Regions from separate parts of the Homo sapiens genome. Here all the other regions are linked to region 1. Evidence: fine-mapped expression QTL. A gene starts in region 1. Each other region holds a variant in brackets. All regions are shown on one strand. Distances are between the middles of the regions.

Region 1 (5,102 bases):
GCATAATTACCCAGACTTTAAAATGGTCTAATCCACAAACCTAGCCAGCCTAGGTTCCTTACTCCAGCCTTATTAACAGTGGGATCTCACTACAACTCCAGTTAATTACACAATTAAACAATGAGATGCAAACATCTACTGTGATCTATTAAAAAACCGTTGCCCCTGAAGTCATGCGTCTGGGGGTGGGTTGAGTCCCAGGATTTCACTAGAAGACAGCAGGCGCCTCGGCCTCCACTGAAATTGTTTACAGCACATGGACAGGTTCCACAACAAGGCACATTTGGTGGAATTGATTTAAGGCTCTCATTAAAATGTTCCTTTGTTGAGCACAAGACATCCCCCCACCCCTGAGGAGACTACAGACCTCCTGTCCTAAGCCCTCAGCCTGCCCTAACTTCCCCCAACAGGATCCCCCACACACACGCGCGCACACACACTAAACACCAACCAGTCACCAGATTAAGTCAATTAACATCAGAGTCATCTTCTCATGGAAGGAATTTAGGAATTCAGCATTTGTTGAGCAAGAGCCCCATCTTCACCAGAAACTCCCCTTGACTCTAGTACCCTGAACAGCAGCAGTGAAGGCAGCCTCATTGGGCAGACCCACACACCAAAACCCAACCAGGACAGCCAGGGGGCCTGTGAGCTTGGGCTGCTCGCCCAGATGGCTGGGCCCCCATCCTGGCTGTGCAAAAAAACTTCCATACTTCCTCTGGGAGCAGATGTGGATTCTGCCACGAGCAATAACCACCACACACATCACAAGAAAAACGGGGCAACTCCAGAAACACCTCCTCCAAATCCCTGGAGATTGGTCTCTTTCCTGGGTTACATTTACCTCTCCTTTTACAACTGGGGGCAGGGGAGATGTTGATTCCACCAGCACCAAAACCCCTCCACAGCTGGCAGGCCAGAAAGATATTAGAAAGGCAATTCCTTACCCATGCCCTTCCCATTGCCACCTTCAAAGGAGATGGAAGGTGATCACCTAGGACAGGTCTCCTCGACAGAGCTCCCCAAGAGAAAGCTGCTTCGAGGACCACCAAGGAGTGTTGTGGAGGGTCGGGGGCTTTATTTCCAGTCCGGGCTATTTGGGATGTGCGGGTGGCTTGGTGCTTTCCTGTAAGGCACTTCAACACCTCAGTGATGACTCTTAGGTGTGACCAAGCCAGGAAATAAAAGCTGCGGGAGTTGGGGGGGCGGTGCTGTCTGCCCTGGTGATGAGGGCCACACCCTCGTTAAAATGCTAAGGCCCCCCCCCAAGAAAAGCCAGAATGAGCTCTTTTTGCCTTTCTTCCCTTAGAAATACTTCCTTTCCTCTGTGAGGACAGTCAGGATGGAAATCCAGGAAGGAGCAGAACAAACCCCGTCCGCACCTTTGCAGCCAGGCCATGCCCGATTTTGGCAGCGGCCTTCACACATTAGTCACCGCGACAGCCTGGGACCCTCGGATCCCCGGATTCGGCCCTGGCACGGAGTGGGCGCAGGGTTCCAGACCAGTAGCTAGAGGCCATGGATGGGGGCGGCCCCTAACTCTTCCCTTCTTCCGCCCTCACCCGCAGGGCCATCTGGGGTCTCAGCTTTGCCCAGGAACTCGGAGGAGGGAAGCCGGGAACGTCGGGTCGGCGTAGGTAACAAAGCTCCGCGCTTTGCGCGCCGCAGGTCTGTCCGGCATCGGGCCCCAAACCAGCAACTCTTACCTGGGCCGACCCTGCCGGGTGGGGTGGGGAATTCCTTTTTCTCCATCGCGCTCCCCACGGTGGGTGCGGATGGTCTTTTCTCCCCCGACAAGAAACTCCCCATCTGGGCCCGAGAGCCAGCAACTCTCGGCAGTTCTCGAGCAAACTCTCGGCTCAGACCAGAAAAACTCAGGGAGGCTGGAAATGCGTCCCCGCGGCGCGAGTGGGAGGGGTACCCTGACCGCGTCCCTGGAGGCTTCGCCAGCCTCCCGACACCCGGGCTCCTTGCGCCCTTCCGCCGCAAGCCTGCACCCCCAGCGAGCCTCTCCACTACTCCAGGGCCGTTCCAGCCGCCCAAACCCACCGCCCCGGGCGCAGCCTTTTGCCCACGGGACTCCCGCGCTTCCCAAGCTCTGTGCCCCCAACTCTCGGGTACTCACCGCCCAGCAGCGGCAGCAGCAGGACGCTGAGCAGAGGCAACCGGCGGGGTCTGGCCGGGGATCCCCGCGCAGCTCCCATCGCGGCGGGCTCAGGAAAAGGAGCTGAGGGCGCACGGCGGGCGCGCAGACTGCGCTCCGCGGCGGGCACAGGAGGCGGAGCGCACCGGAGCGCGGGCGCCGCAGCAGCAGCCGCAGCCGGAGCCCGACCCCGAGGCGTCCCGAGGCGTCCCGAGCCGGAGCCGCGCGCGCCCAGTACCTCCGAGTCCCCGCGCGCCGCCGCCGCCGCCGCCAAGCCCCGCCCCACGACGCCCCCTCCCCTCCGGCCCCCGCACGGCGCCCCGCCCCCTCGACGCCCCCTCCTCGCCGAGGCGGGGAGGAGCTCAGTAGGGGGAGGGGTCTGGAGAGGGATGGAGAATAGAGAGAGCAAGGCTCAGGGAAGTGCAGGGGACCTGAGTATTTGCTGTACCCACCACCGACTCTGCAGGGATCCGGGAGAACCTAAGTGACTTGTGCGATTCCGTGGACCCTGGGGAGAATGGTCCATTCTGGGCATACCTGGAGGCTCTGGCCAACAGTTCCCCCAGAATTCTCCAGGTGGGGGCAGGGGAAGAGGCGGGCCCCGCCAACTCTTCAGCAACCCAAAATCTTAACGGCAGACCCAGAACAGCAGGGTGTCCTTAATGTCCCCAAGTAACCTGAAGATGCTGTGTAGCCCGGAGAGGGGCTGAAGTGTGCATGACTGGGGTCTGGTTTGGCTGTAGACCAATCTGAACCCAAAGGTAGAAACACGCTGGGCTCTGAAAGCCAGGCTGAAGTCTGCTAACTGACAAATTCATCCCAAGTCCATCTCCAGGCAGTCTGGGCTGTGTCAGGGTATGGCCAAGTCTCCAGCTGTGGGGAGGCCCAGCACAACCCTTGTTCCAGGCACCCCCACCCCCAGCGCCACCACCCCCACATTCTTTCTTTGTTGTGAAAGCAGCAAGGGGTGTAGGAGGCGGGTCAGGAGGAGTCAAGCTTTAGAAGATGGGCCCCAGCTGCTGCTCAGGCCTCCAAGATATGCTGAGAGGGGATGGATAGTGCCTTGTCTCCCCTCTGGTTCCGGAGGGCCCCCCAGGCCTGTTTAGACCTCCCTTCCCCCAAGCAGCTGGGAGGAGGAATGGCAGCCACAGAGGGCCTCACAGCCAGGAGAAGTGGCGCCAGGACTCCAGGGTCCTGCCACATGGCCACCACATGTCCCTGACAACCCAGTCCACAGCACCTTCTCCTTGGGTTGTGAGCCTCCTTCTTCCCCATCCCCCAGATGCCTTCCTACAGGCCCTGCTGGAGATGATACAAACAACGGGAGGAAGAGAGGAGAGATCCAAGAATCAACACTCCTCCTGCTGCTCCATCCATCACTGCCCCTCACCTTCTGTGAAGGGCCCCAACACAAGCCCTGCTTCATACCCTCTTCAATCAGGACTCAAGTCACAGAAAGGTTACCTGATTCTTTTATTTAAGAAAAGTGAAATACATGGACCTGAAGTGAGACAGCAGAGGGAGGGAGTAAGAGCGGCCAGGGCAAGGCAGCTTGGCTGGCCAGCCCCCAACCCTCTGACTGAAAAGCCAGCAGCAGGCTGCATCTCTGAGGGCCATACCTGCTTTGTACCCACCTTGGGGCCTCAGAGCTAGCTACTCTAGAGGACCACAGGGTGCAGAGAGGGTGTCCTGAGGGTCCTTCCTAAGAGGGATTCCTGAGGAGGGAGCTGAGACCCTAAGGGCAGCAGCAATCTTCTGGTTAAACTGCTCCCCTTCACTGTCCCACCTAGGGGTGGGGAAGAGCCAGGAGCAATGGGGAATGCTGTGAGGGCTGTGGGGGTGGGGGGACCCAGCAGACCTGGGGGCCGGGTTGAATGTCAGCTGCTTGAAGAGAGGTCCATGGTGCTGGCACTGAGGCCCCGGGAGACCTGAAACAGACAACACTACCCCATCAGCTCAGGGACCTCGGCCTCCCAAAGACTGGCTCCTAGAGTCCATCCATCCCATGGTCACAGTGTATCTCTGGACCTAGGATCACATCTGTCTCTGGACCAGTCTATCTCTGGACCTGGGACTTTGTTTAGCCTCTGCTAGGGTTTTCCAGAAGGCCACAATCTGGTGGAGAAGCTACCTGGAAGAACCACATGAATACTGGCATATACTTGTGTGTTGATACAAGAAGTCATTTGCCATTAAAATATCACTAGTGTTTTCTCAGATGGGGATTATTTAATACTTTTCTTTTTCCATTCTCATCTACTACTAAGGCGGCTGCAGGATGAAAAAATAATTCGTATCTCCAAATAATTCTTAAATTATTCATAATTCCAAAGTACCAGTTTACAGAATATTCCTATTTCCCTCCTTATTAACTTATTTGCTACTATGTCTGGCCTGAAACTGTCCCTTGGTGGTCAGCACTCACCACAAGCTATCTGCCTGATTCCTTAATGACTGCAATCCCCTGGCTCATCTTCATCCCAGATGACTCCTCTCCCTTCCCTCTTCCCTTACTCCACTGGGCTTGCTCACTGGCTGTCCTTTTTTCCTCACCCACCAATATGCTCACAAGCACTGCTCTCACCTGGAGGGGTGCTGCACTAGGTTGGTTCAGATAGTTCAAGGAGGCTGCTCGCTTCATGTTGCTGCTACAATGGAAAACGGAAGAATTGAGGCCTCCTCTCTTCCTCCTGAGTGGCCTTAAGGCTGTGGGCCTCTTGAGCACTGCCACACTGGGGCACCCATTCTACCCAAACTCTCTCTCCATGGCTGGCCCGTTGACTTCCTCCCTGTTTCTCTCCGAGATACTTCTCCAGAGATCAGGAGCCAAGAGGAGTTGGAGGCAAGGGCTTACTTTACTTGCCTGCTTTACCATATCTTTTTTTTTTTTCTTTTTTTTTTTGAGACGGAGTCTCGCTGTTGTCGCCTGGGCTGGAGTGCAATGGCATGATCTTGGCTC
Region 2 (5,102 bases), 25 kb before region 1:
TGCAGGGAGCACACATTTTTTATAGGTGGCTACACACACACACACACACACACCTGTAATACTCCAGCACTGCTATGACAAGGGAGTAAGTCTGCCTAACTCAAGGATGAATAAGACATTTATCCACTTCAGATTAAAGCCTTGTTGCTTGCTCAACCTAGCCTTTAAAACAAATAAAAGTGATACTCTGATCTCCATCATCCAATCCCTGGTCTGTCTGTTTTTCTCCCTCTCTTTCACCCCCTTCGACTGGTTTTAAACTCAGAAGGGAGAAGGGTATTTACTGGTGCTGTCAATACAGTTTCCATTATAATGGTTTATGCCTGAGCATTTTGTTTTTATTTTTATTGATTCTGTGAATGGATAAATGTTCCTGTTGTATTTTCTAAATGGTTACTTGCTGATAAGCAGCAAACCTTCTGGGTTTTGTGTAGGTTTTGTATTTGCCCAAATGACTCAGTTCTCTCACTGATTGTAGTAGTTTTTCAGTTGATAATTGGGTTTCCCATGTAAAAAAGGTACCTCTGCAAAAAACATGAACTTTATTTAGACTTTCAGTCTTTTTTTTTCCTGTAAGTGACAGGGTCTTGCTTAGTTGTCCAAGCTGCAATCCTCCCACCTCAGCCTCCCAACTAGCTGGGACGATGGGTACACGCCACCTGGCTATATTCTTTCTTATAGCATTATTTCAGCTAAAATAATAATAAATAGTAGTGACTTTATTATTTTAATTTAGTAACTTCATTTTAATGCAAATAGCATTGTATTTCATTTTTAAGTATAATGATGGCTATGTTTGTTTTTTTAATCAGAAATGGATGTTAATTTATATCTAGTGTCATTTTTGCCTCTATTGAGAGAATTGTGTGACACCTTTGCGGTTGGTTTGTTTTTTTTTGGTTTTTTTTTGGTGGGGTAGGGGGAACAAAGTCTTGCTCTGTTGCCCAGGCTGGAATGCAGTGGTAGGATCTCAATGCACCGCAACCTCCACTTCCTGGGTTTAAGCAATTCTCCTGCCCCAGTCTCCCAAGTAGCTGGTATTACAGGGACCCGCCAACACAACCGGCTAATTTTTTTTTTTCTTTGAGACAGAGTCTTGCTCTGTTGCCCAAGCTGGAGTGCAGTGGCACGGCCTTGGCTCACTGCAACCTCCATCTCCCGGGTTCAAGCAATTCTCCTGTCTAAGCCTCCCAAGTAGCTGGGACTACAGGCGCCCGCCACCATGCCCAGCTAATTTTTGGGTTTTTAGTAGAGATGGGGTTTCACTGTATTGGTCGGGCTGGTCTCAAACTCCTGACCTCAGGTGATCCGCCCACCTCGGCCTCCCAAAGTGCTGGGATTACAGGCATGAGCCACCTCACCTGGCCAAGAGATGCTCCCAAGAACGGGCTGGAACCACCCACCTCCAGAGTTGGAGGCAAGCACACCAATCAACTGCAAGACACAGAGGGTCAAGTGGCACTCTGTATTTTTTTTAGTAGAAACGGGGTCTCACCATGTTGGCCAGGCTGGTCTCAAACTCCTGACCTCAGATGATCTGCCCGCCTCGGCCTCCCAAAGTGCTGGGATTACAGGCGTGAACCACCACGCCCAGCCACCTCTGACGTCTTATGTTGATGAGTTATAAAGGGTAAGCCACCCATGCATTTTTGGGAATACATCCTTTACTTGTTTATGGCACATTACCGTTTATCATAGTGTTAGATTTAATTTTCAAGTATTCTATATTAGACTTTTACACCAACGTTTCTAAGTAGTGTGGTTTTCTGCACTGTCAGCATTTGAGAACAAAGCTATATCAACTTTGTGACACACACAGGCTGTTGTCCATCTGTTCCTTGGCTCTGTGACAGTCTCTACAAAGCATTTACAGGCTCTACTTCTTCAACATTTTTCAAAATTTTCCCTCAAAACTATTTGATACAACTATCTTTCTTTTTTTTTTTATTTTTTTTTTTGAGACGGAGTCTTGCTCTGTGACCCAGGCTGGAGTGCAGTGGCGCAATCTCAGCACACTGCCAGCTCTGCCTCCCGGGTTCATGCCATTCTCATGCCTCAGCTTCCCGAGTAGCTAGGACTACAGGTGCCCACCACCACGCCCGGCTAATTTTTTGTATTTTTAGTAGAGACAGAGTTTCACCATGTTAGCCAGGATGGTCTCAATCTCCTGACCTTGTGATCCGCCCGCCTCTGCCTCCTAAAGTGCTGGGATTACAGGCGTGAGCCACCGCGCCCAGCCTCTTTCTTTCCACCGCGCCCAGCCTCTTTCTTTCTTTCTTTCTTTTTTTTTTTTTGAGACAGAGCTTCGCTCTTGTTGCCCAGGCTGGAGTGCAATGGTGCGATCTCAGCTCACAGCAACCTCCGCCTCCCGGGTTCAAGCTTCCGGAGTAGCTGGGATTACAGGCATGCGCCACCATGCCCGGCTAATTTTGTATTTTTAGTAGAGACGGGGTTTCTCCATGTTGATCAGGCTGGTCTCGAACTCTGGACCTCAAGTGATCTGCCCGCCTCGGCCTCCCAAAGTGCTGGGATTACAGGCGTGAGCCACCGCACCCAGTGATACAACTATCTTTCAATCGTTTTTAAGAGTTACTGTCTATCCAGTCATTTTAATTTTTTTTTTCACATCTGCTTAGTTTTTCATTTAGTTAAGTATTAAGGACCAGCTAATCAACTCATTAGATTGGTCAAGGCAAGACACTTGAACTACACAGCAGGATTTAAAAAGCAGTTGGTTTTTGGTAGTTCTCTGGTAACCACACAAACACATACACACAAATTTGTAGAGTACTCTGAATATAGGATTTCCCCCGTGATCTTGTATAATGCCCTGTTCACAATCTGCAGTATTTTGGAAATTATATAAATTGGACACGG[C/A]CAAATTAAAGATATCTCATAAACTCCTATAAAGTATTTGGGAACTTCAGCTGTATTCCCAAAAAAATCAGTTTTAAACTATAAAGACAAAAATGCATATAAAATCAAAACAGATTTAACAGACATCTTTGAAAAAAATCAAATTACAGTTCAATTTTCTACTTTTTCAAATATGACTAAAAAAAAAGTTACAAGTAGTAATGTCTATCATTTTTTTTTAAAAAAACCCTAATGATTTTTTTTTTTTTTTGAGATGGAGTCTCGCTCTGTCACCCAGGCTGGAGTGCAGTGGTGTGATCTCAGCTCACTGCAGGCTCCGCCTCCTGGGTTCACACCATTCTCCTGCCTCAGCCTCCTGAGTAGCTGGGACTATAGGCACCCGCCACCACGCCCAGCTAATTTTTCATATTTTTAGTAGAGACGGGGTTTCACTGTGTTAACCAGGATGGTCTCCATCTCTTGACCTCGTGATCCGCCCGTCTCAGCCTCCCAAAGTACTGGGATTACAGGCCTGAGACACTATGCCCAGTCATGATTTTTTTTTAAGAGACAGGGTCTCAGGCCAGGTGCAGTGGTTCACAGCTGTAATCCCTAAATCTCTACTAAAAATACAAAAAACTAGCCAAGCGTGGTGGCACATGCCTGTAATCCCAGACACCTGGGAGGCTGAGGCAGGAGAATCGTGCCATTGCATTCCAGCCTGGGCAACAAGAGTGAAACTCCATTTCAGAAAAAAAAAGAGATGGAGTCTCAAAAGCTGGTCTCGAACTCCTGCACTCAAGTGATCTGCCTGCCTCGGCCTCCAAAAGTGCTGGCATTACAAGTGTAAGCCACCACCCCCAGCCAGATTCTTTAATAAATTTCAGTCATTATATTTCCCTGGCACAGATTTATTAGCATAGCACCAAACATGGTAACCCCGATAAATATTAAAATATTTTCCTATCACAATGATCACAAATCTAATTATTAGTATACATTTCCTTAAATGGTAGCCCTCTGTTAAATGGTAAGCTCTCTGGGGACAGTGAATTTTTTCATCCCATTCCCTGCTCTATCTATATCCCTAGTACCTACTGGGTACCTAGAATGTACTCAAGAAATAGCTGTGGGCCAGGCGCAGTGGCTCATGGCTGTAATCCCATCACTTTGGGCAGACTGCTGGAGTTCAGGAGTTTGAGACCAGCCTGGGCAACATGGTGATACCCTGACTCTATAAAAAAATTTTTTTAATTAGCCAGGCATGGTGGTGCTTGCCTGTAGTCCCAGCTACTCAGGAGGCTGAGGTGGGAGGATTGCTTGAGTCTGGGAAGTCGAGGCTGCAATGAGCCATGATTGTGCCACTGCACTCCAGTCTGGGTGACAGAGTGAGACCCTATCTCAAAAAAAAAAAAAAAGGAAAAATAGTTGGGAAGCTATGAATGAAATTAAAGCCTCTTTTTTTTTCTTTGTTTTACCTATTGTCCTTTTATTTTTCTACATTAGAATTGCCAAAGTCACATTTTTTTTCCTTTTTTTTTTAAGTACTGGATCCTAAATGACTTATCTATTTTATATTTTTAATTTCAAATTTATTAATTTCAAAGTTGTATTCAAAAGAAAATTAATAATCGTAAATTATTTCCTAAAAAATGAGACTGAAATAAATGAAAATAAATTAATCTATTGGCCTAAAGTTAGAAAAAAGAATAAAACAAACTTTGCCATTATTTTAGGTTTGTATTATGTAAAGAACATGAAACTTTCTTATTCAATCTAAACTCCATTTCAGTTGGAGACTTATTCCACTGAAATTTATCATCATGACTGATATATCTGTCTTTGCTTTTATCTGTTTCACATTTTAATATTATAATGCTTCCTTTGTTGTAAATATGATTTTATTTAGTTTCTTCACCTCTTATGATCTGCAAAGCATATTTCTTGCTTTTCAATTCTAGTAGCATACCGTTTACTACTTTTAAAAAATCTTGACTTGGCAGGACGCGGTGGCTCACTCCTGTAATCCTAACACTTTGGGAGGCTGAGGCGGGTGGATCACCTGAGGTCAGGAGTTCGAGACCAGCCTAGACAACACGGCAAAACCCCATCTCTACTAAAAATGCAAAAATTAGCCAGGCATGGTGGCAGGCGCCTGTAATCCCAGCTACTTGGGAGGCTGAGGCAGAAGAATTGCTTGAACCCAGGAGGAAGAGGTTGCAGTGAGCTGAAATTGCACCACTACA
Region 3 (5,102 bases), 66 kb before region 1:
TTCAGCATTTTCCAAAGGGTGACTCGCATGAGAATTTTTGGTGGCTCATGGTAAACATGTCTTAACGTATGCTAGGAAAAAACGTAACTATGACAAACCCATGATTTCTCATATTTTTTCCTAGAACAATGGTAACTTAGTTTTTTTTTTTAAAGAGTCAATTTAAATAAAACATCAAGTAAATAATACTACAGGTAGTACACAGGAATGACAAAATCTGCACGAAGGGCAGTGAATAACAGGCTCTGGGGCCACACTGGGCTAGATCTCTACCTATGCTTCCCTCCACCTCTAACATTCTAGGTTTCAGGGACTTCAGAACACTAGCCCGTACCCAGCCTCAAGACACAGCGGGTGACTTGTAGTTAGGCAGGGGCAGCTGTAGTCAAGGCAACATACCCAGCGTGGTGATGGGCTGCAGGCTAGACCGTGGGAAGTGCATCTTATCACTTGTGCTGTGGCGTTTGTTGGTGGCCGCGGGGCCGGAGCCCAAGCTGGTCAAGGCCACTTCTTCTTGGATCTCTGCTGAGGGCTGCCCGTTCTGCAAAGGCCCACCTGGGAAGGAGGAGGACAAGAGCGTCACGATGAGACCTGACACTCTGGCCACCATGGGGATTTCTGTTCTGTCCCCTGGTCTTCCACTCTTGCCAACTTGGGTCCAATCACAGTGCTCCACATGAAAGGGCAAGCCCAAATGATGAAATAATGGGGCTGGGGCTGGGTGGGGGATGTATGGCTATCCCCTAGGGTATGACCCCTTAGTGATGCAGCTGATTATGACCTCTGAGATGAAGCCAACTGCAGACATCTAATCTGAATCACTGGTCCTTAATACCATAGCTACACATAAGGATTTTTGCTTTCATGGGGCCTCCTATTGGGCAAAGCCCTAAACAGGCACAAAGGGAAAATCACAATAATGGAGACCCAACCTCTGCTCCTGAACACCTGAGCTGATAGGAGAGACCCAGCAATGACCTCAAGGAGCTCCCAGTCCAGGAAGTGGGGATAGGAGAAGGGAAGTAAACAGAAAGACTGCCCCTGGGGGAGCTCTTAGACTCATAGAGGGAGACAAGACATGCAACAGCAACGTGTGTACATATACTAATGATATCTGTGGTTTTGTGCTGGGAGGAGGAAACAGCAGGGAATCATAGGAAGCTGGTCCAAGGGGCTCCAATGAAGAAGTCTCAAGCCAGGTTGCTCAGAAGACGAGGCCCTGGGAATCCAACTCCAGGCTTCCCGCTAGGGGTGGGGCAGTCCCAGCTCCAGGACCCAGCAACAGCCGCTCGGTTTCCAGAGTGCTGGCGCTCTCCCCTCCGTGGCCGCGGGAGGGCGCTCAGCTCCCGCACACGGGCACCACCTCCCCGTCCAGGGCCCCTCACCGTTGAGGCATTCCATCTCTGGCTCCTCGCCCTCGGGCTGCTTCTGCAGCCGCTTGGCTTTGCAGCGCTTCTTGCAGTAGAACATGAGGCCCAGCACGGCAATGATGTAGGCCACAGCGGCACCCACCGACAACCCAATGGTCTGGATCATCTTGTAGGGGGGAGGGCTGCCAGGGCCCTCCGACTCCTCCGGCACAGGCTTGTCTGAGAGACACACAGATGGGTCTGGGCAGGGGCTGCTAAGCAAAAGAAGCCCTGCTTCTCTACTAACTCCTCCCAACCCCATCAACAGGGCAACTTAACAGATGGCCCGGGAGGGTCACCACCTTCACTGGCTTTAACAAGGGCCAGCAGGTCCTCATGCCCCACCAAGGTCAAACGAAGACTCTGAAGGAGATGAGGCCAGGGGTTCCCAAGCTGGCTTTGCATCGGAAGCCAAGACAGGCGACACGGATAAGCACACCTGTCAAGGAGCTACCACAAACCCACGTTATTTGTTAAGCTTCCCAAGTGACTTGATAATGTGAGCCAGGCCCCGGAGAGCAGCATTTGGGAGCTTCAGGTTTAGAATTCCAGGCACTGCCTGGCACAGAGCAGGTTTTTCAATAAGCAGATCTGTAGAAGGGATCTGCTGGTCTAGGGGCCTTTTAATGGCCCACACTGAGGGGCCTCAAGAGGCATTAGGGGAATGAAGGGAGACCATGCAGGATCCCCCAACTGCCACACACACCCCAGTGGCTCCCACCAAGGGGGCCTCCTCAGTTCATTTTCATCCATTTAAACTTTCACATTATACTTTGTCTAGAAAAATAACTCTGCTGCCAAACCAAGAAAGTTTAAGAGCTTCTCATTTAAACCACTTTCACCTGTGGATGCAGAAACAAGTCCCCAGAGGAGAAATAAGTCTCCCAGGGGCAGAGAGTTAAGTGCAGGGCCTTTTACCTGACCCATCATCCTCTCTGGGCCTCCTGGAGAAAAGAACCTTGTCCTACTGCATTCTGACCTGGTCCTCCTCCCCAGCCACCCAGAGATATGTGTGGCTGCTGCAGGAACCTGGGAGGCAGCATTGTAGGAAGAGAACACCCCCCCACTCCCCCACAACACACACACACACACACCGACCGTTGGATGTTAAATAAACGACAGCCCGGCTCTGAGCAAGGACTCTAAGACTGTGCAGCAGCATGGTGAGACGGCCGAATCCCCACCGCTGCCACAAAAATGGCTTCTGTGCCATGTTCTGTACACAGGGGCTGAGTACAAGGTGACAAACGTCTGGGCCCACCACTTCCTGTGCAGCATA[A/C]CCCTCCCCAGCCCATACCCACGACATAGAGGGGGGCCTCCGTGTGCTTGATGTTGCAGCTGTTGCCTGCAATGCAGGTGTAGCGGCCTGAGTCCTCAGGGGCCACGTCATGGATCACCAGGGAGCCATTCTGGAAGATGTGCATCCTGTCGGGGGAGAAGCCATAGTGCTGGCCAGCTCGCAGGGAGGGGGGCTGCAGGAGAGGAGGGACGGGTGTGGGAGAGAGGTGGCCCTACCTGGGTCCCAGCTTGGTGGGGTCCAGGATGCGGTCCTTGCCTTTCCACTGAATCAGCGGCTTGGGGTCCCCCTGGGCCTCGCACTGCAGTAGGGCTGTGTGGCCCTGGTACACAGTCGTACGCTCTGGTTCCACTTTGAAGGTGATAAAAACTGGAAGAAAAGAGACCAGCGAGGCGCAGGGAGGGGTAAGCCAAGGGGCTGGCAGGGTACACGGTGCTACCCCAGAGGGCCCTCCCAGCCCCAGGGCCCTGCCACGGTCGCACCTGCCACAGTGAGCTGGACATGGGCACGAATCTGGCCCTGCGGCCCGTTGGAGGCAATGCAAGTGTAGTTGCCAGCGTCATCTCGAGTCACCCGGGCAAAATGCAGGGTCCCAGCGTTGTCTGTCACCCACTCTGGGAGGCTGCTCCCATCTGCAGGGGTAACAAAGGGAAATTATGGGAAGGATCAGGGTTACACAGACAGCTGGCAATGCCTTCAGTCCCTCACCTCTACTCAAAAACACACCATCGCTCCTGACCACCCACAGGCAAAGTCCAAACTCCTGAGCCAAGTGTTAGAAGCCCCTCCGTTATTTACCCCTCTTCCAATTCTTCAGTCTCACCTCTTCCTCCTACTGCCCTGTGTGACATTCCACGTCTGCCAAACCGGACTCTGTTTGGGCCCAGATCGGCCCTGTTCCTACTCCGCTGCCCATCACTTCTCCCTCCTAGAGCCCATTCCCGCTCTTTACCATCCCAGGCTGTAGATCCATTTTAAGCCTCACCTCTCCCAGAAAGTTCCCCCAGACCTGAGCAGAGGGAGCCTACTTCCTCCTCAGAATCTACAACTGTACTCTCTCACTCTAGGTGGAAATGTCAAAATTGGTCCAACCTTTTAAAAAATAATTTGGCAACTCACATCAAGGGCTATAAAAATGTTCATACCCCCTTTCGTGCATAATTATCCCAATTCTGGGAATCTTTCCCAAAGGAAATAAACCTAAATCCAGAAAAAAACTTTGGCTTAAAGATGTTTATTGCAGCAATGAAAAAAAAGGGGGTGGGTGGGTGGCTGGTTAACAACCCAAATCTCCAACATTTAAGGAACAGTTAAGTAAATTACAGTGAATCCAATTGTTGAAATATTATTAGGATCATCAAAACAAATATTCATGAAGAGTGTATAAAGATGTGGGGAAATGCTTGACAATGGTAAGTAAAAAAGGGTATAAAATTACACCGTTACAAAAAAAATAAAAATAAATAATTTTAAAAAATATTTTTAAAAACTACATAGTTATCTGTATTGTCTAATTCTACAATAAGCATGTCTACAGGCATGCACCACCATGCCTGGCTAATTTTTAAATTTTTTGTACAGACAGGGTCTCCCTGTATTGCCCAGGTTGGTCTTGAACTCCTGGGCTCAAGCGATCCTCCCACCTCGGCCTCCCAAAGTGCTGGGATTACAGGCATGAGCTACCACACTCAGCCAATCATGTAAATTTAATAACTGAAACTATATATACAATAAAACTGCTAGGTAAAAAAAGAAAAACATATGCACAGAAAAAGAAGACATACACCCAAAGATGATAAACGGCAGGACTGTACATTTTTTCTCCCAATATTTTTTTTTTTTTTTTTGAGATGGAGTCTCGCTCTGCCACCCAGGCTGAAGTGCAGTGGCACAATCTCGGCTCACTGCCACCTCCGCCTCCTGGGTTCAAACAATTCTCCTACCTCAGCCTCCCGAGTAGCTGGCACTACAGATGCGTGCCGCCACCCCTGGCTAATTTTTTGTATTTTCAGTAGAGACGAGGTTTCACTACTCTATGTTAGCCAGGATGGTCTCTATCTCATGACCTCGTGATCCACCCACCTCAGCTTCCCACAGTGCTGGGATTACAGGCGTGAGCCACCACGCCCGGCCTCTTCCAGTATTTTGTAAAGGAGCCCATGTAACTTTTGTTTCTTTTTTCTTTTGAGTCAGAGTCTCACTCTGTCAGCCAGACTCTGGTGCAATGGCATGATCTCGGCCCACTGCAGCCTCCACCTCCTGGGTTCAAGCGATTCTCCTGCTTCAGCCTCCTAAGCAGCTGGGATTGCAAGCATGTGCCACCACGCCTGGCTAACTTTTGCATTTTTAGTAGAGATGGGGTTTCACCATGTTGGCCAGGCTGGTCTCAAACTCCT

Evidence for each region.
Region 2: its variant is fine-mapped to the expression of PTK7 in tibial nerve (GTEx, PIP 0.97).
Region 3: its variant is fine-mapped to the expression of PTK7 in whole blood (TOPMed, PIP above 0.99). The same link has a PIP of 0.9 or more in blood mononuclear cells.

What each region holds. Positions count from the first base shown.
Region 1 is chr6:43,073,591-43,078,692 of GRCh38, reverse strand. It overlaps PTK7 (protein tyrosine kinase 7 (inactive)), which reads right to left and starts at 2,379. Exons shown (of 20, transcript NM_002821.5): 1 at 2,126-2,379. The coding sequence starts at 2,204. It overlaps KLC4 (kinesin light chain 4), which reads right to left. Exons shown (of 16, transcript NM_201521.3): 15 at 4,728-4,791; 16 at 3,600-4,071. The coding sequence ends at 4,021. It overlaps KLC4-AS1 (KLC4 antisense RNA 1), which reads left to right and starts at 2,463. Exons shown (of 2, transcript XR_002956347.1): 1 at 2,463-2,998; 2 at 3,426-4,360. RefSeq lists a silencer at 2,292-2,391 and an enhancer at 2,721-3,244.
Region 2 is chr6:43,098,408-43,103,509 of GRCh38, reverse strand. The region is part of intron 1 of PTK7 (protein tyrosine kinase 7 (inactive)); the gene reads right to left. Among named protein-coding and RNA genes, the nearest start is that of PTK7, 25 kb to the right of the region's middle. The variant C/A (reference allele first, on the strand shown) is at 2,878.
Region 3 is chr6:43,139,904-43,145,005 of GRCh38, reverse strand. PTK7 (protein tyrosine kinase 7 (inactive)) reads right to left here. Exons shown (of 20, transcript NM_002821.5): 11 at 3,189-3,338; 12 at 2,925-3,075; 13 at 2,707-2,834; 14 at 1,386-1,589; 15 at 400-555. Among named protein-coding and RNA genes, the nearest start is that of SRF, 29 kb to the left of the region's middle. RefSeq lists an enhancer at 1,491-1,580. The variant A/C (reference allele first, on the strand shown) is at 2,689.